Linked DNA regions of Homo sapiens. The protein of the gene in region 4 interacts with the protein of the main gene of each other region in a pairwise test. Each region holds a gene or a part of one and is shown on either strand. Other genes may lie near its edges.

Region 1 (7,892 bases), on a different chromosome or scaffold from region 4:
CTTTTAGCAACTAACAAATCCCATGCTTTTGGTATTTAGGAAATTGCTTTTGGTTTTCTGATAGTATTAAGCTGACACTGACAGGGCATAAAGAACAGAGACGGGGACACCCCTGCCCCACTTTACTCCATGAGCAGAACATCTCCTTGAGTTTGAACTTTCTTAGGATCCTACACTGGCCAAGGCACCTAGGCCCAAGCTTTCCTTTAACTATGCTCACCCATTCCATTATAGTCCCAGAAAAGCTGCTTTCTTATTTCTCTCCTGGTGACTTCCAAGTGAATTATTTCTCTTGGGGTAGAACTCAATTCTATGTCAGGCTATCTATCTCTAAAAAGAGAAGAGGTCGCTGACTCAGAGGTAACAGTGCTGGTCTCATGCAACTGCAGATATTATCTCATGTTGCCTGCTCGTTGTTAATAAAGGCTTAATTTGAGATACATCTCAGAGTATACTCACAAACAGTGTCAGGCCCTTCAGTAGGTTGGATTCATCTAACAAACATCCCCAGGTATTTTTTGAAGAATTCAAGGAAATATACCTGTGACACCTAGAAAGTAACTCATATCCTGAAGCCTTAGGCACTATTAGCTAAAAGTAGTGTACATTAATTAATTTTAAAAATCTTTAATTTAAAATCACCTTTTCCATGATGAATCATCTCAAAGTCATAGCTTTTATTCAACAGCTTTTTGCAAGTGGGCATTTTTCAGACATTGGGAATCCCAGCAGGGCCCAATTAGCATGTTGGATTATTTAGGTAATCCCTGCACTCTACTGAAATGCAACTTTTCATCTTTGACTTCTCTTTACATTCCAACACTACCTGTTTTCAGGAGCTATCAGTTTTTTTTGTAATCAGCCTCATATCCATTCTAGGGATGATTTTCATATTTATCAACAATTATTTTCTCATTTATGCTGAGCCCTTACAGGATTTTGGAAAGTCAAAGGTGAACTACAGAGGATTTTCCCTGGAGCTGTTCACAGCCAGTTGGGAGGCATGGACACAATTATGGTTCAAAGTGATTAGCAGAAGTTTAGGTCTATCGGGGCACAGCAGCAGGTACGAGTAGAGCTCCAGGGAAGGGGCAGAGAAAGGAGACATCAAGGAGGAGATCACATTTAGTTTGATACTTTTAAGGTGATACAAGAATTTGCTAGGTAGGAAAAAGAATGTATTCATTATAGGCAAGAGCCACGGAGGGGGACGACAACTGGAAGGAGGTGCCACTGGGAAGGAGGTTGCAGTGAGAGTCTAAGGGGCAAAAATGAGGAACAAGTGAAGGGGCATAAATGAGGGGTCCTTAAGGGGGAAGATGTGCACGATCAGATTCAGGTGTCAGAAAGGCAACTTTAACCAAGTCTCTTCAGATTCTCTTTTTGCATCTCCTGAATTGCAGACACTAGGACTCAATCATTTTTTAGAAGCTAAAAAAAAAGTTCAGGCAAGATGAATTAGTATTAAGGGAGTGTTTGAGGCACCTGTGGCAGTGTTGTGCAATAGAAGAGGTGGAAGGAGGATGGCTAGGCTTTTCTTCCCTGATGTCCTACTACGAAAGGTTCCAGAGCTCTTGGCAGAGACAGTGATTGGTTCCGGGGCGGCGGTGGGGGGAGGGGGGCAGTGGTGGTGGGGGGTGGAGGAGCTCAAAGAACTCTGGAGTAGAAGCCAGAAGAGCTGACTAGCAGCAAGACCCAGACATCTCCCTTCTTCCACCTCTGTTTCTTCACCTGTGTGCCCAATATGGTTTGAGCTGCATCATCTTCAAGTTCCCTTCCAGCTCCAAAACACTGGGCATAAAACAACACATCAACTTCCAAACCCACTCTGAACACTAAACTCAATTTAACCAGACATCTTTTCAGCTGGAATGATTTGCCTTCCACTTTGTTTTCTACCTCAGATGCCTGGGGGACCACATGGAGAACACCCAGGGGAAGAGAAATTGATGGAGTGGGGTGGCTGGGTGCTGGCTGCTGACCTCCAGGAAGTTGTCACATCTGTTAGGTTGGGGCTGATGTCCCTCATTCTATCTAAAGAACTGTAGCTTGAGAACTTTCCTTTTGCTTGGTAAATACTGCCCTACACTAGAAGCAGTCGGTGTTCATTGACAGAAACAATGGGCAGCCAGTGTATTTGCCCAAAGGCAAGTCAACAAGAGAGGCAGCTGAAGGTGCTTGTGCTTGTTGTAGCAACTGGCAAGGGTGTAAATCAGTTGTTGCTTTTAGCCCATAATAATGAGATTCAATATTGTTTTTTCCAATACCTTTGATTGGTTCCAATCATATTACTTTTTCAAACAAATCTTCATTAGTAACAATCAATGCAAAAAAAAAATCTGTAAAAGTAACAAGGTGCAATAAAAGTAGATGAAAGACCTTACTTGATGTGTTAGAGGGCTACCCTCTAACACATAGCTCTTTGGTAGCTCTTCGGATAATTTCCCGTTTCCTTTTTTTTTTTTTAAGTTTATGTCGTTTCTTTAGTATGCTTTCTAGTAGTAAATTTTCACACCCCAGTTTTTCCAGGAGATTTTGGAATCAGCAGACTTCTCAGCCCACACCATAAAAAGCAAATTAATCATGTCTCTGTTTCAGCCAATTGAAGCTTTTGTTTTTTTTTACATAAACTGCCAAAAAGTTTATGGTTTTCTTAATATGCCCATTAAAGCTGGTAAATTACAGGGACGCACACTTCCTGGAAGACAAAGACTGAAAGAGGGTTAAATGAAGTGAGAGCTGTAGCCAGTTTAGACAGCTGCAGCGAAAGCGAAGTCCCCTCTCCATCCCACCCCCCAAAAAAAGGAGTTCTAATTTTCTCCACTTCTTTCACAGAAAGGATTAGATTTTCTGGGTGTCACCCTCCCCGGCAGAGTTCTGTAGCCTCGGGCACCCTACCAGCTTTTGCGATCCTCCTTCCCAGGAGTAGGAAGTGGAGGCGGCTTACCCCGGCCGACGGGAACGAGCGCGATCACCAGGGCGAAGACTAGGGCTGCGCGGGGAGCCTGCATGTCCGCTCGCCTCGGCAGAGGCGCGCTCAGGATGCTGCGCCGGGCTGCAGCCTCTCTGAAACGTGAACATTTCCTGTTTCCTGCTTGTTTGGGTCGGTGCTGACTTGAAGGAGAGGTGTGTGCCTGTTTTTTAGGAAGTGATGTAATTCTGCAGGAGCCTGTCAGACCAGCAAGGATTGCAAAAGAGAAGTTGCTGTTGAAGCACTGGTTCTATTATCACGCCTCTCCAGCCCTTTGGAGTCCCGGCCTCCAGCTTTTGAAACCGTCCCCGGGGCAACAGAGTCCCTTGCTCAGATGTCGTTCGGTATCTGGGACTGGGAGGGGTCCTGGACCACACGCATTCTCACTCTGTGATTTTGCTTATCCCCCAGGTGAGGCTCCGGGGCTGCCTAGACCCTAGGAAGAAGCTGTCCTGTAGAACTTTCTGCCCTGATGGAAATGTTCCAAGTCTGCGCCGTCTGATACAGTATCAGCCACATTGGCCACTGAGCATTTGAACTGAGGCTAGTGCTGATGGAATTTAAATTTTATTGAATTTTTATAAAATTTTAATAACTCCAAGTGGCTAGTGGCTGCTGTGTTGGATAGCGCAGGCCCAGACAGCAGGGACAACTGCATCATCAGAAAACTGCCAGACCACTTCTCTCCGCCAGGTCCATTCTCCTTTCTCCACTCTGGAATGCCCTCCTCCCACCAAGGCCCACGCCAGATGGAGGTGGATGCCACACCCACACCTTAAGGTTATGTTCTGCTTCCCCAGAGAGAAATGATCTTTTCAAGGTCCATTTCCAAAGGAGAATATGCTCTGAGGGTGGAGGTAGGGGTGAATCTGCATCTCACCTTCCTTCCTTCTTACTTGACAATCAAGTTCTCAGACAACAAACAAAACAGGACAGAAACGAAATAGAATAATGGTAGAAATCCTATCCAATCGAAACAATACAGAAAGGTTGTGTCTAGTATACAGTGGAGATTAGTGTGTGTTGGGTGTTCTATTGGAGGTCCTTCCCTTGGTTTAGGTTTAGGGCCTAAGCATTCAGAATGCAGTTTCATAATCGTGGTGCCAAGAGAGACAGACAGATGGAGAGAGGGGTAGTGTTGAGGCATCAGACACATCTCATCTCTAAACCTTTCCCTGCAGATCACCATCTGAGTCATGACTTCCCGTCGTTTGTCTTCAGTGATCTGGTTGGTGCAAACGTATGAGGTGACTGGAATTCCTTAGCCCCTGACATAGCTGTTAATTTTTCTTTAATGCATTGCTGCTTTTCAATGTCATTAGTCACTGTTTATCTCAGTTATTATTCACAAGAAATAGGTTGGTGATTCATGTAAGGATCAGTTTGTTAATGGATTTACAGTATGCACTTTAATGTTTTAAACTGGCAATTAAGTCAATTCTTGATAAAATATGCTTTTTGCACCACAGGTGACAATACAGAACAAACAGCAGGAGAAAATAGACGTGCTCAAAACTGGGTGATTGATTTGAAAACAACAGAGAAAGAACTATTAATTAAACACTTGCTGAGCATGTGAATAGATCACGGGCTCCAAGACCTGCTGGTACTGAGTTGGGGTGGCAATTATTCCTGTACAAGCACGTGTTTCTGCAGCTGTGACACACACGTGCAAGAAAGCAGGCCCAGGGCTTGGGAGTTCTCTCCATTTTACCATTTATGCCCTATTAAAATATTATTAAATGTTATTAAAACATTGTTGAATCCCAGGCTGGAGGCAAATGTTTGTCAAGGGCAAGGTTGTCAGCCTTCGTTTCTTTCATCTTAAACTTCAGCTCCCTGTGGAAGCTTTTGCAGTCAGGTGTCTGTGGATTGGACCACAGACTGTCTTATTCTGTGGACCTCTGCTGAGCCCCATGACATGGCCAAACAGTTCATTACTGTTTCAACAAGTGCACTATGCATTGCTTCTGAGCAGTGCAACACTAAATCAGAGTGAGGTACAAAATAAACTGGAGCTGCAGAGAAATCCTGCCCAACCATGTAATTTTCTTTTGACCCCTGTGCTCTCTAAGACCCTTAGCATGATTAAGCTGATCTTAGGGGGAAGAAAATTACCATGATTGATCAGAAAATGGTAGCACCTCAATGATCTCTTTGCTGCAGTTAAAATCCCAGGGAGGCTGTGTGGTAGGTAAAGGGCTATTTACCTCTGTTTTAATTTTAGCAACCATTAATTTAGGCAAATAGCCACCCAGCCTCAGATTAAATCCCGATGCACTGGTGGCAGGAAGTCAGGGCCTCAGTCCCAGATGTGGGGCACAGGGGAACCTCAGAGTGAGTGGCACACAGGCAGGGGTAATGCCACTTTGGAGCCTGCCATTGGCTGTCTGAAAGCAGGAAAGAAGTATGGTGCTTCATCATGTTCAGAAGGGCAGGAAGGGACACTGGGAACCATGTCTAGGGACTCTTTATTACTTTACACAAAGGAGTGTGACTTTTACAATCAACTGTCTGTGCTACAGAAGTGACTCTCATCCTATCCTCCCTCCCTTCCCCCCGCCCCCTCCCCACCACCACTCCATGGGCCATAAAAGAAGAGGGACTCCAAGGGAACAAATCCAGATAAATGATAGGATCTTCCAGTGGGTGCAGACAGCCTTCTCCGCGTTCCTCTTCACACTCCGATCCTGCCATTCCCAATACACACAGATGTGCACATGCACTCAGATACACACACAGCTGTCTCTCACACACACATTCATGCACATGGTGGAAATAAATGAAGACTAAATGAGCACAAGCAAATGAAACCAAGCAATGGATATTAATTCAGAGCTTGCCATAGCAAGAGAGTCAGCCACCATCGCTGCATTTTGGCACAGACCCAAAGGCAGGCCAAGGAATGAGATAACTTTACAGTCGATAAAAGGAAGGCTCAGGGCCGGGTGCAGTGGCTCATACCTGTAATCCCAGCACTTTGGGAGGACAAGGTGGGCGGATCACCTGAGGTCAGGAGTTCAAGACCAGCCTGGCCAATATAGTAAAACCCCATCTCTACAAAAATACAAAAATTAGCCGGGCATGATGCGGGGTACCTGTAATCCCAGCTACTCGGAAGGCTGAGGCAGAAGAATCACTTGTACCTGAGAGGTGGAGGTTGCAGTGAGCCGAGATCCCACCATTGCAGTCCAGCCTGGGCGACAGAGCAAGAGTCGTTTCAGAAAAAAAACAAAAGGAAGGCTCAGGTATGGCCTGAAGGGAGGCTGCTGGCATGGGGAACCAGCAGCAAGTTCTAGTGATTGGTGAGGAGGTGCATATTTTGCTGCTGCTAGATCAGAAGAGGAGATAAAAATGAGGGAATCTGTCAGAAGGTGCTCTGACCTCCTACAAGTTTGATTTCTAGCAGGCTGGCTTCCTAGACTTGCTACTGAAGATAGTGAATTGGTTTCTGGGGGTTGGTTGCTGCAAGCTGGGAGCCAGTGTTCTGTTTTTGCATATATTATTTGGCCACTGTCCATTTGTACATCCAGTCTCCCAACACACACCCACAGGCACACTCACATACTCAGAAATGTGCACACGTGCTCACACACACACGCTCTCACATCGACACTCACATACAAATGTTCTGGAGCTTCTTTCTCTGTCTAAATGCCTGCTAGTGACAGTGGATGGTTCCTGGGTGTTTGGTTGGCTGTGGGCTGGCCCTCAAACAAGATAATAGTAACATCAGGTGGGGCCTGTGTATCACTCTGAAGCCAGCTAGGAAGGTGCAGGGAGGAGGCAGATTGAAGTCCCAGGTTCTGAAGGAATGCCCAGAGAGGTAGCCGGGCAGGGCAGAGGCTGGGGCAGAAGGATTAGGCTGACATTTAGCGTGTGCAGAGAAGCCACAGCCAGGAGAGGGGCTGACAGCCATCTCACTGCGCGTGAAGTGGGGGCAGCTGGAGCCTGCACAGCCGGGCTCATCTTGACCAGCCTATCTCCACCCTTGGGGGTCTCTGTCTCTGCATCCTGGCTGCCAATACTCTTCAGAGAAACTGTTGCAAGGTTTGGATAATCCTAGGGGCTTCCATGACAGGGTCTTCCAGGGCCTAGGTAGATGGCCTGGTCACCACAACATGAAACTGTAAAGGATTGTGATTAGGAGCTAAAGTGGCAGTTGACACGTGGGACACAGTGCAGCGCTCTGGGCTAGAGGGTGCTGGGGCGTATCTAAGAGACAGAGCAGCAGCTCACTGCTGAACATCCACAGTCCTCCTCTAATTGCCCTCTGAGAGCAATGGCATTCTCTGTCTTGCTCTCCAGTCTATCCTCAGCATTTAGGACAGAGAACAGAGAAGTGAGTAAATGGGGGGAAAATCCCTTTACAGCAGTATTTTTTTAAGTGCACTGGAGGGGGCCACCTATGTTAGAATTATTCAGGGGAGCTTGTTAAAATTCAGAGTCCTGGACCCTATGCCAGAACTATTGAGTCAGAATCCCTAGAGCTGAGGTCCATAACTCTGTATTTGTAATGTTTGAGGGGATTTTTATGCATGATAGATAAAACTCGAGAATCATGTGTTAGTTAGTTCCTGGAAATTATTGCTAGTTCCTAGAAAGGTCCCTTTTCTCCAAAGGTAAGAAATAAAAAGCACGTTGTATTTTCCTGTTTTGCCTTGACTGCCAGGAGGCCTGGAACTAAAAGTTGAAGCTTGGTTGTGTAACTTTTATTAGCCCAGGTGTCTTTACCATTTCTAGGAATATTTCTTTTCCTGGCTAACTGTAACTCATCTGTCTAGCCCTAATTTAGAAGACATCTCCACCAGGGAGCTATCTTAGAAGCCTTCCTCCTCCCCCTAACCCAAGCTGAACAAAATGCTCATCCTTTACTGCCACCCACATAACACCCATCAGAATACAACCAGAAGACCTGGCT
Region 2 (7,357 bases), on a different chromosome or scaffold from region 4:
GTGAAATTTTCAGCCGGTCCTCCCCTGACCCTCAGTCTACCTGCCTCTGTCACTGTGAATAAAGACTTCTTGTTCTTTCCAATAATTTCCCTCCCTGCATTGGCCCAGGATGCCCTCTCATCTTCCCACAAACTTTCCCCCTGCATTTGTCCTTCCATTTTCTGCCAAAAACAAACCCTCAAGATTTTATTTCTACTAGATCATTCTCACTATTACATAAACATTACATAAATCATATCCCCTCCCTTTAAAAAGAAACCATCCTTGGCCAGGTGCCGTGGCTCACACCTGTAATCCCAACATTTAGGGAAGCTGAGGCAAGTGGATCACTTGAGGCCAGGAGTTTGAGACCAGACTGGCCAACATGGTGAAACCTCATCTCTACTAAAAATACAAAAATTAGCTGGACGTGATGGCACGCGCTTGCAATCCCAGCTACTTGGGAAGCTGAGGCAGGAAGACCTCTTGAACACCGGAAGGCGGAGGTTGCAGTGAGCTGAGATCGCACCACTGCACTCCAGCCTGGGCAACAGTGACTCCGTCTCAAAAACAAACAAACAAACAACAACAAAACTAAACAAAAACAAAATAAAAACCACCCCAAAAAACAAAACAAAAAACAACCAAAAAGATCTTGGACTATATTCCTTTCTGGTGTTAACCCTATTTCTCCTGAGAGAATTCTTTCTATGAAAAGAATTTGCAGCCAGATTTTGGAAGGAGTTTTCTGTGTTTGCTCCCTTTGATTCCCTGCCTCACTTTTTCTCCTGAATCCAGTCTGTATTGACTCCAGTCCTTAGCACTGACCTGGTGCATTTTCCTGAGGATGCTTATGACCTCAAGGCTGCAAATGCAGTGGGTGCAAATCCATATTGGTTCTTATCTCAATATCTTCGTGATAGAGGATCCATTGGATCTCTTCTTCCCATTGGATCGCTTCCTTCTCCTTAAATCACGTTTTTCCTGTGCCATGAGATGATAAATGTACACACAACACACTTTCACTTGCATTTGAAGCTCAATTGGCCACCGCTTTTCAGTCCCCTTTGCTAGTATTTTCTGCTCTAAATTTGACTCTAAATTTAGGAGTGTCCCGCAGCTTTTACTTGTTCCCCACCTCTCTTATCTCTATATAGTCTTTCTATAGGTGATATTATCCAGTCTCAGGGCTTAAAATATCATGCTCTCTTTTCATCTAAACTATCAGCCTTGGCCTCTCTCTGGTGCTCCAGTCTGATATAACCTCTCCCCACGGGAGTCCCGTAGACATTTCAAACCTAACGTGGCTCAACCAAACAGTTGATTGTCTCATCCTCCCAAACCTGCCACTCTTCCAATATTTTGTGTCTATTTGAGTTTAAACATTCAGTTGTTAAAACTTCCAAACTAGAACTTATCTTTCATTTCACTTTCTCTCACCACAATCCCATCCAAGTCCTATTAATTCTATCTACAGAATCTGCTGAATGCACAGCCAGAGCCATCTCTATCTCTACAACCTGTGTCCATGGTCCTGTCAGGCAGGAATGTTTGCGCCAACTTTGCAAATAGGTTGTTCCTGGTCCTACTTTCCCCTGCCCTACAATCCAATCTCCAGAAGGAAACCAAATGAGCTTTTAAAAAGTTCAATAAGGGCCAGGTGCAGTGGCTCACACCTGTAATCCCAGCACTTTGGGAGGCCGAGGCAGGTGGGTCACCAGAGGTCAGGAGTTCGAGACCAACCTGGCCAACATGAAGAAACCCCATCTCTACTAAAAATACAAAATTAGCTGGGCGTGGTGGCACGTGCCTGTAATTCCAGATGCTCGGGAGGCTGACGCAGGAGAATCGCTTGAACCAGGGAGGCGGAGGTTGCAGTGAGCTGAGATCGTGCCATTGCACTCCAGCCTGGGCAACAAGAGCAAAACTCTGTCTCAAAAAAAAAAAAAAAGTCCAATAAGGGCCGGGAGTGGCTCATGCCTGTAATCCCAGCACTTTGGGAGGCTGAGGTGGGTGGATCACCTGAGGTCAGGAGTTCAAGACCAACCTGCCCAACATGATGAAACCCCGTCTCTACTAAAAAAACACAAAAATTAGCTGGGCGTGATGGCGGGTGCCTGTAATCCCAGCTACTTGGGAGGCTGAGGCAGGAGAATCGCTTGACCCTGAGAGGCAGAGTTTGCAGTGAGCCGAGACTGCGCCACTGCACTTCAGCCTGGGCGACAGAGCAAGATTCTGTCTCAAAAAAAAAAAAAAAAAAGGTCCAATAAAATGGTGATGCTATTTTCAACACCTTCTAATGGCTTCCAAACTTCTAACTTATCCTTATCTTAAGTTCCCTCAAGTACCCCTGGACCTGCCCTGTGCATTCCTCAGACCTCATCTCTGCACTCTCGTGGGACACACTGGGCTCCACCCATAACGGGCTCTGATTCCTTGAACATGCAGCTCATTGTCATCTCGGGGCTTCTGCCTTCTCTGTTCCTTCTGCCTACCATGCTCTTCCTCTTAAGCTCCTCACACTTGGCTCCTTCACATGTTTATTTATCTTTGAGTTAGAGTTTCACTCTTCTTGCCCAGGCTGGAGTGCAATGGCACGATATCGGCTCACTGCAACCTCGGCCTCCTAGGTTCAAGCGATTCTCCTGCCTCAGCCTCCTGAGTAGCTGGGATTACAGGCTCCCACCACTACGCCTGGCTAGTTTGTTGTTTGCATTTTTAGTAGAGACAGGGTAATGCAAGCCCTAAATGCCAGCCACACACGTGACTTACAACTTTCTAGTAGCCATGTTAAAAAAGTAAAATCATTGGGAGAAATTAATTATAATAATATGTTTCATTTAACCCCGCAAATAAAAAAAATCATTGGAACACGTTACCAAAATGAAAGTTATTAACGAGATAAATTGTATTATTTTGATCATACTAATGATTAAACTACACTAAGTATATTTTACACTTAAGCACATTTCAGATCAAGATAGAAACATAGGCACTCAAAAGCCACCTGTGGCAAGTGGATGCTCCATTACAGCACTGCTCTAGAATTTAGGAGGTGTTTGTCAGAGAGCAGGAGTTCCATTGATAAATTTTAAATTGTCAGTCCCCAACTTACCAGCAGCTAAGCTCCTTTTCCTGTGTGCTTCTTGGCTTCCTGTGGAGCAACACCGGCTCTAAGGGCTTTCGCGGAGACTACTGAATGATGGGGGAGGGACAATGGAGCTGGAGCCAATCCCCTAACAGAAACTCAGGATTTCTTATAATTTTCAGAAGACACCTTGGGTATGTTGTCAGCGGACTCTTCTTAGAAACCAATGTGTCTGAATGTTCCTTCACCTCTAGCCTTCTGTGAGAGACTGGAGTTCATGCTTCCAAATGTCAAGGGTCAAGGAATCTGAATGTCCAGCCCTTCCTTCTTCAGAGTTTCATGAAAATGAAAGAAACAATTACTGAAGTGGGAAGAGTTTCAGCCACGCAATCAAGCCCAAATATGATGATTAAGTCAAACTCAATTCTCGACTTATGCAGTACTTCTGGCATCAAATGTGTGGGTCTTTTCCATATCAAGCAATTCTCCAGTTCTCTGGGGACACCACTGGGTATCTCACAATTCAATTCAGCTCCGACGCTGTCTACCTGGAGTTAGTGTCAGATCCCACAAGTTAAAGGGCTCACTCTCCCAAAACTGTCCTCACTTCAGACACCAATCCAAGTCCCAGGTGGCCACCTGTACTTCTGACTGACTGGCTATAAATCGGGGGTGGGGGGATGTTTATAACCCCTTCCTCTGTTCTGATAATTTGTTAGAATGGCTCACAGAACTTAAGAAGGCACATTACTGGCTGGGCGCTGTGGCTCACACCTGTAATCCTAGCACTTTGGGAGGCCGAGGTGGGTGGATCACTTGAGGTCAGGAGTTGAAAACCATCCTAGCCAACATCATGAAACCCCACCTCTACTAAAAATACAAAAAAAATTAGCTGGGCGTGGTGGTGGGCACCTGTAATCCCAACTACTTGGTAGGCTGAGGCGGCAGAATCGCTTGAACCTGGGAGGCGGAGGTTACAGTGAGCCGAGATTGTGCCACTAAACTCCAGCCTGGGCAACAGAGCGAGACTCCATCTAAAAAAAAAAAGAAAAGAAAAGAAAAGAAGAAGGCACATTACCTACATTTACTCGTTTGTTCTCAATGGAGTTCACATATCGAGAAATAAAAGGTGGTAGGTATTGTATAGGTGCAGGTCTCTAAAGAGGTGCTTCCTTGCTGGCTGCTGGAGACATAGAGATCAATCAGACATGGGCTCTGCGGACCACCTGAATAGAGAGGTGAGAATGCAGTGCTTAGTTACAATAGGGTGGGGGCACGTAGTGATAGACAGATGCCTGGCTCCTTGTGAGGTCCTCTAAAAGGAACCACTAACTCAGATTCACGGATCTAGAGTCAATATCCGGAGGAGGGAACATGTAGGCTGAGTCTTAAAGACTCAGATAAAGGAGAAAAAATAATGCATTCTTGTCAGAGGGGAGTAAAAATACCCACGAAAGGGGTCACAAAAAAGCAGGTTACTTTTGTTTACCAGAGCATAGATGATAAGGCAGACAGCAATAAGCATTAAGTATGTAGAGGGCGGCAGAGGCAATTTCTTGGTTGGTCTTGAATGCTGTAAAAAGAACTTAGAATTTCTTCTTAAAATTTCTTTCTTATATATATATATATTTTTATTATTATACTTTAAGTTTTAGGGTACATGTGCACAATGTGCAGGTTAGTTACATATGTATACATGTGCCATGCTGGTGTGCTGCACCCATTAACTCGTCATTTAGCATTAGGTATATCTCCCAATGCTATCCCTCCCCCCTCCCCCCACCCCACAACAGTCCCCAGAGTGTGATGTTCCCCTTCCTGTGTCCATGTTTCCTCATTGTTCAATTCCCATCTATGAGTGAGAACATGCGGTGTTTGGTTTTTTGTCCTTGTGATAGTTTACTGAGAATGATGATTTCCAATTTCATCCATGTCCCTACAAAGGACATGAACTCATCATTTTTTATGGCTGCATAGTATTCCATGGTGTATATGTGCCACATTTTCTTAATCCAGTCTATCATTGTTGGACATTTGGGTTGGTTCCAAGTCTTTGCTATTGTGAATAGTGCTGCAATAAACATACGTGTGCATGTGTCTTTACAGCAGCATGATTTATAGTCCTTTGGGTATATACCCAGTAATGGGATGGCTGGGTCAAATGGTATTTCTAGTTCTAGATCCCTGAGGAATCACCACACTGACTTCCACAATGGTTGAACTAGTTTACAGTCCCACCAACAGTGTAAAAGTGTTCCTATTTCTCCCCTTTCCAGCACCTGTTTTTTCCTGACTTTTTAATGATTGCCATTCTAACTGGTGTGAGATGGTATCTCATTGTGGTTTTGATTTGCATTTCTCTGATGGCCAGTGATGATGAGCATTTTTTCATGTGTCTTTTGGCTGCATAAATGTCTTCTTTTGAGAAGTGTCTGTTCATATCCTTTGCCCACTTTTTGATAGAGTTTTTTGTTTTTTTCTTGTAAATTTGTTTGAGTTCATTGTAGATTCTGGATATTAGCCGTTTGTCAGATGAGTAGGTTGTGAAAACTTTTTCCCATTTTGTAGGTTGCCTGTTCACTCTGATGGTAGTTTCTTTTGCTGTGCAGAAGCTCTTTAGTTTAATTAGATCCCATTTGTCAATTTTGGCTTTTGTTGCCATTGCTTTTGGTGTTTTAGACATGAAGTCCTTGCCCATGCCTATGTCCTGAATGGTAATGCCTAGGTTTTCTTCTAGGGTTTTTATGGTTTTAGGTCTAACATTTAAGTCTTTAATCCATCTTGAATTAATTTTTGTATAAGGTGTAAGGAAGGGATCCAGTTTCAGCTTTCTACATATGGCTAGCCAGTTTTCCCAGCACCATTTATTAAATAGGGAATCCTTTCCCCATTGCTTGTTTTTCTCAGGTTTGTCAAAGATCAGATAGTTGTAGATATGCGGCGTTATTTCTGAGGGCTCTGTTCTGTTCCATTGATCTATATCTCTGTTTTGGTACCAGTACCATGCTGTTTTGGTTACTGTAGCCTTGTAGTATAGTTTGAAGTCAGGTAGCGTGATGCCTCCAGCTTTGTTCTTTTGGCTTAGGATTGACTTGGCAATGCGGGCTCTTTTTTGGTTCCATATGAACTTTAAAGTAGTTTTTTCCAATTCTGTGAAGAAAGTCATTGGTAGCTTGATGGGGATGGCAGTGAATCTGTAAATTACCTTGGGCAGTATGGCCATTTTCACGATATTGATTCTTCCTACCCATGAGCATGGAATGTTCTTCCATTTGTTTGTGTCCTCTTTTATTTCATTGAGCAGTGGTTTGTAGTTCTCCTTGAAGAGGTCCTTCACGTCCCTTGTAAGTTGGATTCCTAAGTATTTTATTCTCTTTGAAGCAATTGTGAATGAGAGTTCACTCATGATTTGGCTCTCTGTTTGTCTGTTATTGGTGTATAAGAATGCTTGTGATTTTTGTACATTGATTTTGTATCCTGAGACTTTGCTGAAGTTGCTTATCAGCTTAAGGAGATTTTGGGCTGAGACAATGGGGTTTTCTAGATATACCATCATGTCATCTGCAGACAGGGACAATTTGACTTCCTCTTTTCCTAATTGAATACCCTTTATTTCCTTCTCCTGCCTAATTGCCCTGGCCAGAACTTCTAACACTATGTTGAATAGGAGTGGTGAGAGAGGACATCCCTGTCTTGTGCCAGTTTTCAAAGGGAATGCTTCTAGTTTTTGCCCATTCAGTATGATATTGGCTGTGGGTTTGTCATAGATAGCTCTTATTATTTTGAGATACGTCCCATCAATACCCAATTTATTGAGAGTTTTTAGCATGAAGGGTTGTTGAATTTTGTCAAAGGCCTTTTCTGCATCTATTGAGATAATCATGTGGTTTTTGTCTTTGGTTCTGTTTATATGCTGGATTACATTTATTGATTTGCGTATATTGAACCAGCCTTGCATCCCAGGGATGAAGCCCACTTGGTCGTGGTGGATAAGCTTTTTGATGTGCTGCTGGATTTGGTTTGTCAGTATTTTATTGAGGATTTTTGCAGCAATGTTCATCAAGGATATTGGTCTAAAAAAAAATTTCTTTCTTACAATTTCTTCTGCTTAAAAGCTATTTAAGCAGGAGAGTGACTTGTCAGGTGTGTGCTTCCAGAAAACATTGCTCTAGAGTCCCCCTGCAAAGGGATGGCTCTGAGAATGCTCCCAGTTGGAGGCAGAGATCTTAAAGGGTAAGAAGTTGCCAGAGATCAAGGTGAACTTGTCGAATAATTGCCTGTGCTGGAGTA
Region 3 (7,135 bases), on a different chromosome or scaffold from region 4:
TCACGAGGTAATATATGTGACATTTTGAGTATAGTGGTTGATTCATAGTGACTGATAAATGTTAGCTATTATTATCATGGTTAGCAACCATCAAAAGCTAATGATTAAGGAGAAGTAAATGGATGGACAGGAGAATACCACCCTGGGCAGCAAAACCTGCCTTTCTCAATGACTCAGTTGTGGAGAACCAAGGAAAATCATTCAGCAGGCTTGGTAGTTTGCCAGCCTCTCTTCATTTACTGTCCTCTGGGAATGGAGGTGAGAGGCTCAGTTAATCTGAAACCATATCTCTTTAAAGTGACTTCAATTTCCCCATGCATTCAAACCATCTCAGGTTTAAATTGTTTCAATGTGTTTTGTCTGTATCAAGCCAACAAAGTGGGAGAATCAATGCATCTTATTTCCTTTTTTTAAATTTTATTTTAGGCAAAAGGCCAGAGCTCTGGAAAGAACATGTATTTCTTTACCATTATAATTTCATTATAATTTCTGGTTAGACTAGATACAGATCATGAATTGCTTATGGGAAATTCTCCACCCATTTTTTTACTCTCACTATTTAGGACTGAATCCCACAGCTGAGTTCACTGTTATTTTACTCTTCGTAGCCAATGTTTCTAGTTTCCAAATTTCTTCAGCTTTCATTAATTTTTTTGTTCATTTAATTATTTACCTATATTCTTCTCCTTTCTCCTAAAAGGATTTGATGCAGTTATAGTAATATATTTTAATAATTCCTGGAAGATGAAAAAAATAGAGAACAGGTTTCTTTTCCTAGTTTTAATTTTTACATGGAATATAAGCAAAAGAGTCCTATATTCCCCTCCTTTCCACATCGTTAGTTATGACAGATTGAAAGAAATTCTGGTCTAATCTTAGTTATGTCTTGCAACTCTTCCATCTATTGCAATTGCATATTGAGGGAAACAATGATGAGACAAGGCCAAAGCATAGTAACCAGCTTCATTACAATATTGATAGAGATAATTTGACCTAGAGCCTGTAGTCTTATTGCTCAGGCATCAACTGTTGAAAGAGACACTGCCTTCTTTTTTTGTTTTAAAATATAACTGCAATACAGAGGAGTCAAGAATAATGGAGGTAAAGTACACATAATTCCACCACCCTCGTGAGTCTTCATGCATTTATTTCTGGTGTTTTCCCACATATGTCTATTTGACACAGCTGCAATAGTAATTTACCCACAATGTTATTGTGTCTCTTTTCACTTAACATGAAATAATGTGCATTTTCCACGTTGTTACATCTTCATAATTATAATTTTCACCACTGTATGAAGTGAATGTACCATAATTTATTTTGCTACTTCTCTGTAAGATGCTTCTTCTAGTTATTTACTATTATACCAATGCAGCCACAAACATCTGCACACATAGCTCTTCCCTTATTTTGGATGATTTCCTCAGAAAAAATGATGAGATGTAGGATTACTGAGTCAAACGACATAAGCATTTTCATGGATCTTGATATATTATACCAAACTCTTCCCGAAAAGACTGACATTTATTTGTAGTGCAGCCAATATTAGTTATGTACTTATTTCATAGCAACATCAATAGCATTGGATATTAATATTTTAAAGTTTATTAATTTAATGTGCAAAATGAATAACTAAATGAAAATTGCTTTACAACACAGCTATTCAAATATAATAATTAAAAACCCCTAAAAGATGTAGAAATAGATTATAATGAATTTTCTTCTACATTATTGGTGGTCTGATTAGCTTACAGTCCATAATGCACTATTTTTAGAAATGACTTGACCAGGAAATTGTCTTTTCCTCTGAGTTGCCAACATGATTTACTCTCAGTTTGTTTATTTTTAAAGAACACAAAGTCATCAGGAAAACGTTCATGGATTCTTGCCATTGATAATTCAATTTACTTTTCAAAAACTCCCTCCATTATTAGGGTCTAATGTAGGACTATTTTAATGATGACACAGCTCATTCTTTAATAATCATAATTACAACAGTCACTGGCTATCTACTACATGTCAGTCTCTCTCCTGGGCACTTTATATATATTTTATCTTTAAAAGTAAATGCCATTATTCACATTTTTCACATTAGAACACTGAGGCTCAAAGATACTGAGTAACTTGCTGAAGGTCTCATGGAACAAATGACAGAGCTTAGATTTACATGCAGGTTTGTCTGAATAGCCAAGTCTCTGCTTTTTTTTCATGCTGTCCTAATGCCCCTTCAAGCTAGAAAAACATGAGTGCAGACAGAAAATCTGTTCTAGAAAACAGTAATGCCACTGAAGATCAAATAGCTTAAATTGATATGCAGGGTTCATGAGAACATACTGTTTTTACAGGCCAGTGTCCCACAGACTTTCATTAGGACTAATTTCCTGCATTACTGAGGCTGCATTGCTGAGCAGCTTATTGAAAACAGAGCTATGTCCCAAATGCCAGCAGATTACCTGCCCCTTCACCCCCATCCCTCTTTCAAATCCTACACCCAAGATTAGCAGAATGATTTTTCCATTATTCATTACTTCTACTAGTTACAAGGTAAGTCTCAATTACAACTCCCCCTTCTCTCCCAAGTCTCCAAATTCATACTTACCATGATGCCTGAGAAACAGATTCCTTCAAAATACCACACGTAGTTGGTGAGTTTATTGCTGGATGCATAGGAAGTTTGCCCATTCGGGAAATACAATAATATGTTCACGATTATACTCCAAAGTGCAAGCGGAATCAGCAAACAACTTAGGCAGCCTCCACACTTCCGAGACCCCATTTTGCCCTGCTTAGAACCTGCGGGAGATTTCAAGAGTATACAGTCACAGAAAGTCTATTTTTCTTCTTCCTACCTGACCTTTTTTTTCTCTCTCTCTCTCTTTTTTTTTTTTTTTTTTGAGATTACCTACCACTTCCAGGGTCAGAGCCCTTCACTTCATATTCATGAGGAGACGGGGAATTGGAATATACCCGCAGCCGACAATCTCAGTGTGAAATACTGGTTTACTGTTTGGAGAACAATAGACAATGATCAACAACTGAAGAGCTGAGCTGGTCTTCATCCTGTGCCAAAGGAATGCGGTGTTTTTCACTGCTTTTTAAAATAAGTAATTTTCCTCTGGATTAAAGCACCGAAGGCTTAACCCTGACCTTGTGTTAAGAAGGAAGTTGGGGTGGGAACTGGAATTGAATGCAGCAAATTTCATCCAACAGTGGAGAGAGGGTTAAAGAGAAAACTACCAAGGAGGCTTATATTTAGAGCTTGATAGGTTTGTTAAAATATCCTGACTTTACCCTTTTTATGTATCTGTCTTTCACCTAGTGTGCTTTTTGTGTGCACACTATTCACCAAGCTTTGTTCAAATTGCAAGGGATAAGAAAGGACTGAGAAAGTGACTGGTGGATGAGAAAAACAAAATATCTTGGTTAGATCAGTACAGCTTTCCTTCCAAGAGTTTGCATCTATTATCTCTACCTCTCTGAAAAATCATAACAGAAATAAAGGCATATTTTTCCTACTATTAAGAAAACAAAGGTAGGGCTGGCGCAATGGCTCAAGCCTGTAATCTCAACACTTTGAGAGGCTGAGGCGGGTGGATCATCTGAGGTCAGGAGTTCAAGACCAGCCTGGCCAACATGGTGAAACCCCATCTGTACTAAAAATACAAAAATTAGCTGGCATAGTGCTGGGCACCTGTAATCCCAGCTACTCTGGAGGCTGAGGAAGGAAAATCACTTGAACCTGGGAGACGGAGGTTGCAGTGAGCCGAGATCGTTCCACTGCACTCCAGCCTGGGTGACAAAGTAAGACTCTGTTTCAAAAAAAAAAAGAAAGAAAGAAAGAAAGAAAGAAAGAAAGAAAGAAACTAGCAGTCCAGGTTCCAAAGAGGTTTCTTGGCACCCCCTTGTGGATATGGTTTTTTTTCCCTCTAGTGCTTTTGATCTAAGTGCATCAAAAAATCTGGGCATTAGACGTTTTTTCCAGTCACATAGAAGCAGCATAAAATCATATTTACTAGAGTTCCTGGGATGATTGGGAAGAGAATAACATTGTTGGTTGAGCATTCATTGAGCATCTCTTATGTGGCAGGCACTGTGCTTGATGTTTTAAAAGGTTCACTCTGGCTGCTGTGTTGTAAATAGGTGGTAAAGGGTGTGGAGGAGATAGAGATGAGTTCTGAAGCCATTTCCACCATCCAGGTAAGAGATAATGATGACTCGGATCATGATGGTAGTAGCAGCAGAGGTGGTAAAAGGAAGCTGGATACCAAACACCGCATATTCTCACTCATAGGTGGGAATTGAACAATGAGATCACATGGACACAGGAAGGGGAACATCACACTCTGGGGACTGTTGTGGGGTGGGGGGAGCGGGGAGGGATAGCATTGGGAGATACACCTAATGCTAGATGACGAGTTAGTGGGTGCAGAGCACCAGCGTGGCGCATGTATACATATGTAACTAACCTGCACAATGTGCACATGTACCCTAAAACTTAAAGTATAATAATAAAAGAAAAAAAAAAGGAAGCTGGATTTGGGATATATTTTGAAGCTTGTGCCAACAGGATTGGTGGCAGATTGGATGTGGGTATAAGAGAAAGAGAGAAGTCAAAGACGACATCATTTGGGCCCGAGAAACTGGGAGAATAAAATTGTCATTAACAGAAATGAGCAAGTCAGCTGAATGAGCAGGGTTGGGAGAAGAGGAATGATATGGTCAGTTTCGAATGTGCTAAGTTTTGAAATACCTTTTAGAAATCCAAGTGGAGATGTCAACTAGGCAGCTGGATATACAAATATGAAGTTCAAGGAAGAGGTCTGGGTGACATATAAATGTGACAGTTGTCAGCATATAAATGGTATTTAAACCCATGAGACACTAAGGAAATGCATGTTGATAGAAAAGAGACCCAAGGACTAAATCCTGGGCAGCCCAGGACTGAGTTTAGGGACATGAGAGGAAGGCAGAAAGGATACTGAGAAATGGCCAGTGAGCCAGAAATGAAGATCAGGAGCTTATTCTCAAAGGTGACTTTCTAAGAAGAAGAAGGCGTGATCAACAAAGTTAAATGCTGCCAAAGGGCACATCATACGAAAGAACTGAGAATCGGCTATTGGGTTGAGCAACGTGGAGGTCACTGGTGGCCTTCATAAGAGGAGCTTTCTTGGTGAGTTAGAGATGAGATGAGAGTCCATCTGCAGTGGATTCATGAGAGAATGGGAGGAGAGAAATTGGAAATAGATGAGGTAACTCTTTTGGAGAGTTTTGCTGTAAAGGAGGGCAGAGAAATGGGGCAGCAGCTAGAGGAAAAGTAGAAGTCAAGGGACAAAAATTAATGGAAAAAATGGTAGCATATTTGTATACTGTTGTGGGAAGGGGTATGAGGGAGGGTAGGTAGGTATTTACCATAAAGGAGATAAAGGAGAGGATTGCTGGCACAGGCTCCTTGAGTAGGTGAGAAAGGGTGGGAGTGTGTGAACAGATGGAGGAGCTTACCTTAGATAGCAGCAGGGCAGGTCAGTGTCAGCAACAGAACAGAAGGAGAACATAGCAATGGGCTTGGAGGTGGTTAGCGGGAACTTCTGATTATTATACTTCTGTTTTCTCAGGGAAACAGGAGGCAATTTTATCAGCTGAGAATGAGGATGGGGAGAGGGTGTTAAAGGTTTAAAGGAAGAGAGGAGAAGTTCAAACAGTTGGCTTGGAAAGTGGGAGAATGAACAGACTAGAGAAATGTGGCAGGTGCTGAGGGACCACTTGAGTCTGTGACCGTGAATGGATAGTGAGACTGGACAGGAGACTTGGGTATTTTTCCTAGTAAGGTTCAGTGGCAGAGGTGTAGCCAGCAAGTAGGAAGAAAGCTGGAGTCAACCAGGATTGGGACTTTGCCAGGCAGATACCATGAAGAGAGGGATGGGCAAAGGATTCAAGAATGTATGCAAGTGAATGGTTATAATGATGGACTGTGGAACTTAAGCTGAGTAAGGAGGGAAGTAAGGACGTGAGGGAGTGTGAGAAATAGTAAAAGAGGCACTGGATTTGTAAATTGTGTGTCCCAGTGTGGCTGAAAAATTACTGGTTTTAGGTAACACACAGAGTGAGCTAGAAAGAGAGGAAGTAGTGATTGAGAAGTGTGATGCTGGAATTTGAGATTTTAGAGATGTTTCAGGAATAGGCGAAGAAAAAGTCTGGAGGTGTGTTATGGGCTGATCATGTCTCTCCTAAATGCACATGTTGAAGTTCTAACCCCCCATAATCTCAAACGTGACTGTATTTGGATAGGGCCTTTAAAGTGATGATGAAGTTAAAATGAGGACAGCATGGTGGGGATAATCCAATCAGATTATAAAAAGAGGGAATTTGGACACACAAAGAGATTCCAGGGGTGCAAAGAGAAAAGACTGTGTGAGGACACAGTGAGAAGTGGCTATCTGCTAGCCAAAGAGAGAAAGGCCCCAGGAGAAACCAATCTGCCAACACAGATTTGGCACATAATTTACAAATCTGCTTTGAGATTTGGCACATAACTTACAAATCTGCTTTGACCTTGGAATTCTGGCCTCCAGAACTGTGAGAAAATAAATGTCTTTTGTTCAAGTCACCCAGTCTGTGGTGTTTTGTTATGTCAGTCCTAGCAGACTGACACAAGTTGTGATCCTAGGAGTGAGTAGTGTAGGGAGGTGGAGGACAAGATGACTGGTGAAAAGGAATGGAAAGGGAAGTGTATTGGAATTATCATTTATAATGAATACTAAAATAAAAAATTAGACAATGTCAGTTTGGGAGAGAATGACTACATTTAGAAAGCCAGGTGCTAGACTCTTCAAGGAATGAAAGAAAATAAGCTTGAGGGAGGATTTAGAACTAGAAATACCATTTGACCCATCCATCCCATTACTGAGTATATGCCCAAAGGATTATAAATCATGCTGCTATAAAGACACATGCACATGTATGTTTATTGTGGCACTATTCACAATAGCAGACTTGGAACCAACCCAAATGCCCATCAATGGTAGACTGGATTAAGAAAATGTGGCACATATACACCATGGAATACTATGCAGCCATAAAAAAGGATGAGTTCATGTCCTTTGTGAGGACATGGATGAAGCTGGAAACCATAATTCTC
Region 4 (7,233 bases):
GGTGAACCTCAGAAGAAGCCTCTCCCAGGTGGGCTGGAGCCTGGCAGACATGGAAAGGAAATTGTTAAACCCAGGACCTCCCCAGTGGTTGCTCACAGTCCTGAGCCTTAGGATAAAAGGTTTCTGAGAAAGAACTAGTTTGGGAAAAAAAAAATGAAAAGACATTTCATTTCCAGGCTGCCTCCTCTGAGCCTTCCCAGATTCTCAGTCTGTGATGAAATAGACAGAACACCAAGCTACCAGGAAGGGCACCTGCCTCCTAGATCGGAATCTTCGTCCATTCGCACTTAGGTGATCACTTGCCTTCGAGAGCCCCATCCAGAAGACGGGAGTAATGAGCCCTGCTCTGCCCATCACGGGCCGCTATGAGGATGCAAAAGCACTTAGGAAAGAATTTAAATGCTACACAGGCACACGATATTGTTACGCACAGTCAAAGCTGGTGCATCGGGCACTTCATCATCCAGAAACCTCTTTTACCTTACAATGTGAGATAAACTTATATACCTTTCTATAATGCCTTACTTGTATGGGGGGAAAAAAAGGCAGAAGTGAGCTGACAAAACACAAACCTTTTCCCTTAGGATATTCCAGGGCATGTCATAAAGCGAGACGCACAGGACAGAGGGGAGCAGTGGCGCTGAACCACAGCCGCAAAGGCCTGAGTTCACAGTCCGGGCTGTCACTCTCCACGGGGCTATTCCCTCTCATCTTGGTTTCACCTATAAAATGGGCTAAACCCCACCTGTCCCATCCTCTTTTTCTGGCAGACTCGAGTGAGTCTGTGTGTGTGGTGGCACTCTGAAAACTGTACAGCATTTGCCAGTTACTACTCTCCTGTGCCCCCTACGATGAACAATGGAAATAGATACTAAAATCAGTGCCCTTAAATGTGGAGAGGGAAGGATCATATACTATTTGCTCTACTTTTGGTTAGGGTTGGGAAGTTTCATAATAAGGTGTTTAAAAAAACAAGTGGCCCTAAAGTACTTTCTGAGTCACCACGGAAAGCCATTATCTTTATGCTACTTTGAGATTAGGAGCATTTCACTAACTCTAATTCTCCCATGTTGCACTTGGGATGACGCCCTATGCACTCGGCCAGTGGGCTGTGTGGAAGCCCCATTTCCTGGTGTTGGCATGCATGTGTGTGGGACACTTCGGGTGTTTCTAGTCCTGGTCTCTCTCACAGCCCCTTTCAGACTCCTGAAGGCTCCTCAGGGCAGGGCCCATAATAAAAGCTGTGCCCACTGCAAAAGCTAGCCCCATCCTTCCCGCCTGAACCCCTGTCCAGGCCCTGATGCAGACGGTGATGGCAACAGGGGCCAATCCAGGCACTGAGCATCTCACCTTCCACCTGATGGCTGCACTTCAGTTCTCTGCTTTCTGGGGCTCTGTTGCTGGAAAGAAAACCAGAATGGATTATAGTGTATAGACTCCTCACCCCCGTGGGCCACCCCCAACAGCAGCCGTGTCTCTGCCTGACTCTGGGGGAGCAAAGAGGTGACGGGCATGGGATTTCGAGTCAGAACGATCTGGGTTCAATCCTGGCCCTGCTACTTGCTGCTTACAGGAACCTGGTAACCTCTCTCAGTCCCTCGGTTACAAAATGGGGACAATGATGCCTATTTCAGGGCTGTGTGCCCATTAAATGATATGGGGTCTGTGCCTGGCACAAGCAGATGCTCTGTAAATAGCAGGTGACACTAGTAGTAGCCTGTTTGGTGGAGTGAGGGGGCAATGCTGCAGAGGCCCTGGAGACCCACTCTCCTGGCACTGCGGGAGCATGTCTGGCTGGCCATGCACCTGGCAACAGTCCCTTCCTGAGCCACAGAGGGGTCTCTCTGTTCCCTCTTTTCCACCTGGGCAGGTGGTCACGGACAGTTACCATTGGCGGTGATGAGGTTCTCCACCTGGGCTTCCTCATCTCCTGGGGCCCTGCAGGAGAAAGAGACACACAGCCCCATCAGAGATCTCCAGGGCAGACCCAGAGAGCATCGTTCTGCTCCTCACTGGGGCACAGCTGCCTGCAGTCAGGCTCCTCCCAGTGCCCTGAGGGGCTGGAGCTCACTCTGCTGTGGGATGCATGGGACAGAGGGAAAGGTCTGGACTGAAGGGTCAGACTCAGAGGGAACTTACAGGCACCCTTCAATGTCAGCCCTCATGGGAAGGGGAGGCTAGGGCCACATGGGGGCTTGGGTGTGTCCTGCCACACGCTTTGGACTTCTGGGGTCCAAGCTACCCTTGGCTATTATAGTAAACTAATGGGGTATGACCTCTATGTGGGAGTAGAAAGAAGGTCCAAGTGTCTATTCAGCTCAAAGAGCCTCATGAACAGGTGACAAGTGGGGACTGTGTCGCAGGTCCTGTAGAGAGGACCTGGGCATCTAGAGAGGCCAGGAAGCCCTCTGCTTCCCTTCTCCCAAGCTCAACTGTCCCAAGGGCCTCCAGAAAAGGTTCCAGTACTTTCTTGTCCACTCCCCGTCCCCCACATAGATCAGAAGAGACAGGATGGGCTGACCTTCAATGTTTTGACCTCTCCTTTGCCCCAGAGTCTACCTGGCAGTCCTCAAACTTCCAGCCCTACGTCCCAACACACACGTTCTGCCTCCGAGACAAGAATCCAAGAGAATGCCCATTTGGGGGTCACACACCAGGGGTCCCTTCCTGTCCCACCTAGTATCACCCCCCCAAGGCCACTGCCACGGCATCCTTACCGGGGCTTCTGATTGAAACTGCACTTGCACCTGCGACCTGAAAAGCAAAGAAACCATCCAAGGTCATGCTGCTGGCTTGGCCACAGCAGGGCCAAGGGTCTGTGCAGGTTGTGGGACTATGTAAATGGCACCCCCTAGACCTGGGCAGTGCACAGTTTGCACAGCTGCACACAGTGGCCCTCGGATGGGGTAGCTTCTTCTGGGGCAAAGGAAATACATTCTATAGCTGGAATGGCTACACCCCCACAGCCCTCTTGATCATGTGAGTAAAGAGGGATCTGTGCAGATCAGGCTCATGTGGGAACAACAAACTCGGAGGCACATCCCTCGCACACTAGGGCAGCACCTGTCTCCTTCCTCCGTGACTGCCCCATTCATGCCCTATAGACACAGCACTGGGAAGCCACCCTGCTCGTTCCTATCTATGCTCATTGTCATATGACATTTTCTTTGTTCCCGTGTCACTGTTTTACTGAGCACTTACTATGTGCCCAGCACTCTACTGGGTCGTGAAGATAACACGGAGGGCAGGCAGCCTCCTTTCCTCTCCAGGAGAGGGACCAACCAGGCTCTCACACTGTCCCCACCTGCTTAGCAGCCTCAGTCATTGCTCTTAACAGAGTGAGCAAAAGAACAAACTTACTTAGGATAAGGAGGATCCCAACCGAGAAGAGGACCACAGCGAACACCAGTCCCCCAATCCTCAGGGTCTGGTAATCTGCCAAAGGAACCAAGGGTGAGAGAGGAAGGGGCCAGGGAGAGGGTGTCTGTTCCCCCTACCCCTCCTGCCAGGCAGGGCTGCATTCCCCCTGACCCCTGCACCCAGGGTTGCCATCGCTCACCATAATGAAAAGGGTCCATTTCCTTCTCCTTTTCAGCTGCTGCAAAAACAAACAGTTGGTCAAGAGAAAGAAAGCTACACAAACTGGTTCCCAAATATCTAACCTTGCCTCACAGACCTCAGTCTCCACAAAGGAATTCCAGAGGAGCAGGGCCCATTAAACAGAGATGCCTAGAGGTGCACGGTAGGGCGGGCCTGCCAGTTAGGGGGTTAGGGGAACCCTAAGGGCCGAGGTCAGTGAAGGCATCGAAACTCAGTGAGGCTCTGAGTCATGCAACACCCACATTCATTGCCCCTTTGTATTCTTACATCATCCCCAGAAGGCAGGGTCAGTTTTCCTCTTGTGACACACGGAGAAACCGAGACCAAGGAAGGACATATGACTTGCACGAGGCCAGCACTTGCTAATATGGTCTAGAGACTGATGTGCAGGTCTGAATCCCAGGGTTCAGGCCACAAATCCACAGAGGCGCAGTGAGCTTGCGGGGCTTAAAAACTACTCCCTGCCGGACCCTTAGGGGGCGAGGGGGCAGGCTGTGCTGAGGTCTGTGAATAAATAGCTGCCACCTCCACGACTTTCTCTGCTGACTGAAGGGAGAGGCCCCTGACTAGACATGAAGAACGTGAGAGTCCCCCAGCCCTAATGTCCCAAGGGGCCCAGAACCTTCCAGCAGAGAGGGCTGGACAGGGTTGTCATCTTGTCACAGCCAGGTCCCAGAGGGGTACTTACCACTGGCCAGGACCATGGGGGCCAGCAGGCTGCAGAGGAAGACCAGCACCAACTCCATGGCGTCTGGGGACAGAGGGAGGAAAAAATGATTCTCTGGCTAAGAAGCCTCCATCCGTCAGCTCCAAGCGTCAGCCTGACCAGGGGCCAAGCCAAATCCCCAGCTTTGCTCTGCACTCATGACTTGGTGAGGGTTCAAACAACCTAAGCACAAGCAGTTGACTTTTTTTTTTTTTGAGACAGAGTCTCGCTATCTTGCCCAGGCTAGAGCGTAGTGGCATGATCTCGGCTCACTGCAACCTCCGCCTCCCAGGTTCAAGTGATTCTTCTGCCTCAGCCTCCTGAGTAGCTGGCATTAGAGGCGTGTGCCATCATGCCCGGCTAATTTTTTGTATTTTTAGTAGAGACAGGGTTTCATCATGTTGGCCAGGCTGGTCTCGAACTCTTGACCTCAAGTGGTCCATCTGCCTCAGCCTCCCAAAGGGCTGGGATTATAGGCGTGAGCCACCACCAGTTGACATTTCTTGGACTCTTAGAGAATGCTCTGCATGTATTAATTCAATTGGCACAATTGAGTTAGTACAATTAGCAAGCACTACAACTAACGCAGGCCGAGAACCTGAAGCTTAATGAGGCTGACATGCACCAGAGTGAGTAGCAGGGCCTAGATCCTAACCCAGCATGGTAACTCCTCCACCACGTTGCCTCTGGGACGTGACTTTGAAGATCTCAACTGTGTCCTTCTCTCCAGGCCACCCTTCTGTGGCCATCCCTAGTTCATTCTGACAGCCAATACCCCATCAGAAATGTCTCTTAATATCAGACTAAATGGGGCCAGTAAACCAGTGTCCCTCTAGTCTAGCCAGCTGGGTGGAGAGGAGACTTGTGGTTTCCTGGGCCCTGAAGCGCTGACAGCCCTCCTTCAGGTACCCTTTACGTCCCACCTCAAAAGTCCCCAAGTCAGCTCTTCCCACAGGCTTTGGTTCAGAATCCTCCAGAAAGGTGGTTTGATTCTACAAAAGGAGTTTGAAGGCTGGTTCCACGAGCCTCAGCACCCCAGCCTCTGCTTCCCCAGAGGATGCGGAGGTCTCTGCTCAGGAGCTCATCAGTCCTGGTCTCTGGGTGGATGGCCCCAGGTGGGCTATCCTGGTGGAAGCAGGAGGCAGGGCCAAGAGGTGGCACCCAGGGATAGATTTCAATGGCAGGACACACATCTCACTCCTGGGCTTAAAGGAGCATGGTTAAGAGCCAGAGAGGAGACAGAGAGGCTTTTCCTGAACCAGGAAAGCCCAAGGCTGGGTGCTGTTTTCCATGTGGGGTGAAACTGGCAGTGGCCTGAACCCCTGGACATCCGTCCAGTCCAAGACCCTGATTGCCCCCAGCACGGTCACTACCTTCCTCCGGCCTTGAGCAAGCAGCCGCCACTGCACTTCACCTCTCGGCCACCAGGGGTCAGAACGACTGCATCCACAGCCACGTCAAGGCCCAAACCTTGATTCAAAAAGCCTTTATCAAAAGGTGGTAATTTGCTTTCAATGCTGTCTCATTTCACACTTGTATTTCCTTTGAATGCTACACTGTATCTTATATGTATAAAAATATATGTAACATACACATATAATGAGGCATAGTAATAATAGAAACACCCATAAACCAGCAGCTTAGGAAATGGAGCTTTACAAAGACTGCTGCAGTGACCTCTATTTCCCTCCACCCCATCCCCCTGCCTCTCTCCCAGAGGTGGCCAGTATCCCAAAAATATATATTTTTATTTTTATTTATTTATTTATTTATTTTGAGACTGAGTCTCCCTGTGTCGCCCAGGCTAGAATGCAATGGTGCGATCTCGGCTCACTGCAACTTCCACCTCCCGGGTTCAAACGATTCTCCTGCTTCTGCCTCCCAAGGAGTTTGGATTACAGGCATGCACCACCACACCCAGCTAATTTTTTGTATTTTTAGTAGAGACAGGGTTTCACCATGTTGGTCAGGCTCAAACTTCTGACCTCAGGTGATCCACCCACCTCGGCCTCCCAGAGCGCTGGAATTACAGGCGTGAGCCACCGCGCCTGGCTGAAAATACATATTTTTAATCATTCCCTTGCTCTTCTTCTAAAAAGCTGCCAATCAACAGATATAAAATTTCAGTTATGCAAAATGAGTAAGTGCTAGAGATCTGCTGTATAACACTGTACAGCATAATTAACAATATTGAATTGCACACTTCAAGATATGTTAAGAGGGTAGATCTCATAGTAAGTGTTCTTTCCACAATTTAAAATATACAATTCACACATCAGGAAGTTTGCCATCTTAAACTGTACAATTCAGTGATTTTTAGAACATTTACAAACTTATGCATTCGTCACCAATCTCGGGTTCCAAGACATTTCATCCTCCCAAGAAGAAACTTGTATCCATCGGCAGTCACCCCCGACTCCCCTTCCCTTCAACCCTGAAACCATTCATCTACTTTTTGTCTCAATGGGTTTGCCCACTCTGGACATTTCACATAAATGAAATAATAAAATACATGGACTTCTGTGTCTGGCTTTCAAGTTAGCATAATGTTTTCAGGGTTCATCTACCTTGTAGCATGTATGCATATTTTATTTCTCTTTATGGCTGAATAATATTCCACTGTATGGATATTCACCTTGCTCTTTGTCTTAAAAATATATTTAACACGTACATATATCTAAATATTATGTTGCTTAGTGTAGCTTTTTTGAACTTTATAATTATGATATCATGTTTATAGTCTTTTGAAACTTGCTTTTTCTGTCCGACATTATGCTTCTGTGGTTCACTGACTTACTACATTTAGCTATAGTGCATTCATTTTCAGTGTGGTGTAATATTCCATTGTGCAGGTAAATGATCATGTAGTGCTCTAGTCTCCTGCCAATGGATGTCTGTTTCTTTTTCCCCCTCAATTTTATGCTATT

What was found.
Region 1: the proteins of FXYD6 (region 4) and TMEM154 interact in binary tests that used the Homo sapiens proteins (3 or more experiments, as listed by UniProt).
Region 2: the proteins of FXYD6 (region 4) and FPR2 interact in binary tests that used the Homo sapiens proteins (3 or more experiments, as listed by UniProt).
Region 3: the proteins of FXYD6 (region 4) and TM4SF18 interact in binary tests that used the Homo sapiens proteins (3 or more experiments, as listed by UniProt).

What each region holds. Positions count from the first base shown.
Region 1 is NC_000004.12:152,676,923-152,684,814, forward strand, and holds the start of TMEM154 (transmembrane protein 154 precursor), read right to left. Parts: upstream 3,076-7,892; 5' UTR 3,012-3,075; coding exon 2,948-3,011; intron 1-2,947.
Region 2 is NC_000019.10:51,756,968-51,764,324, reverse strand, and holds the start of FPR2 (N-formyl peptide receptor 2), read right to left. Parts: upstream 3,146-7,357; 5' UTR 3,095-3,145; intron 964-3,094; exon of another isoform or gene 808-963; intron 1-807. UniProt on the Homo sapiens protein: Low affinity receptor for N-formyl-methionyl peptides, which are powerful neutrophil chemotactic factors. Binding of FMLP to the receptor causes activation of neutrophils.
Region 3 is NC_000003.12:149,330,607-149,337,741, forward strand, and holds the start of TM4SF18 (transmembrane 4 L6 family member 18), read right to left. Parts: upstream 3,031-7,135; 5' UTR 2,907-3,030; exon of another isoform or gene 2,898-2,906; intron 2,833-2,897; exon of another isoform or gene 2,794-2,832; 5' UTR 2,777-2,793; coding exon 2,600-2,776; intron 1-2,599.
Region 4 is NC_000011.10:117,838,431-117,845,663, forward strand, and holds part of FXYD6 (FXYD domain-containing ion transport regulator 6 precursor), read right to left. Parts: intron 5,777-7,233; exon of another isoform or gene 5,680-5,776; intron 4,352-5,679; 5' UTR 4,347-4,351; coding exon 4,289-4,346; intron 3,599-4,288; coding exon 3,560-3,598; intron 3,436-3,559; coding exon 3,361-3,435; intron 2,755-3,360; coding exon 2,718-2,754; intron 1,939-2,717; coding exon 1,889-1,938; intron 1,401-1,888; coding exon 1,372-1,400; coding exon of another isoform or gene 1,351-1,371; intron 1-1,350. Other genes in the region: FXYD6-FXYD2 read-through protein isoform 1 precursor, read right to left, coding at 1,351-1,400, 2,718-2,754, 3,361-3,435, 3,560-3,598, 4,289-4,346. UniProt on the Homo sapiens protein: Associates with and regulates the activity of the sodium/potassium-transporting ATPase (NKA) which catalyzes the hydrolysis of ATP coupled with the exchange of Na(+) and K(+) ions across the plasma membrane.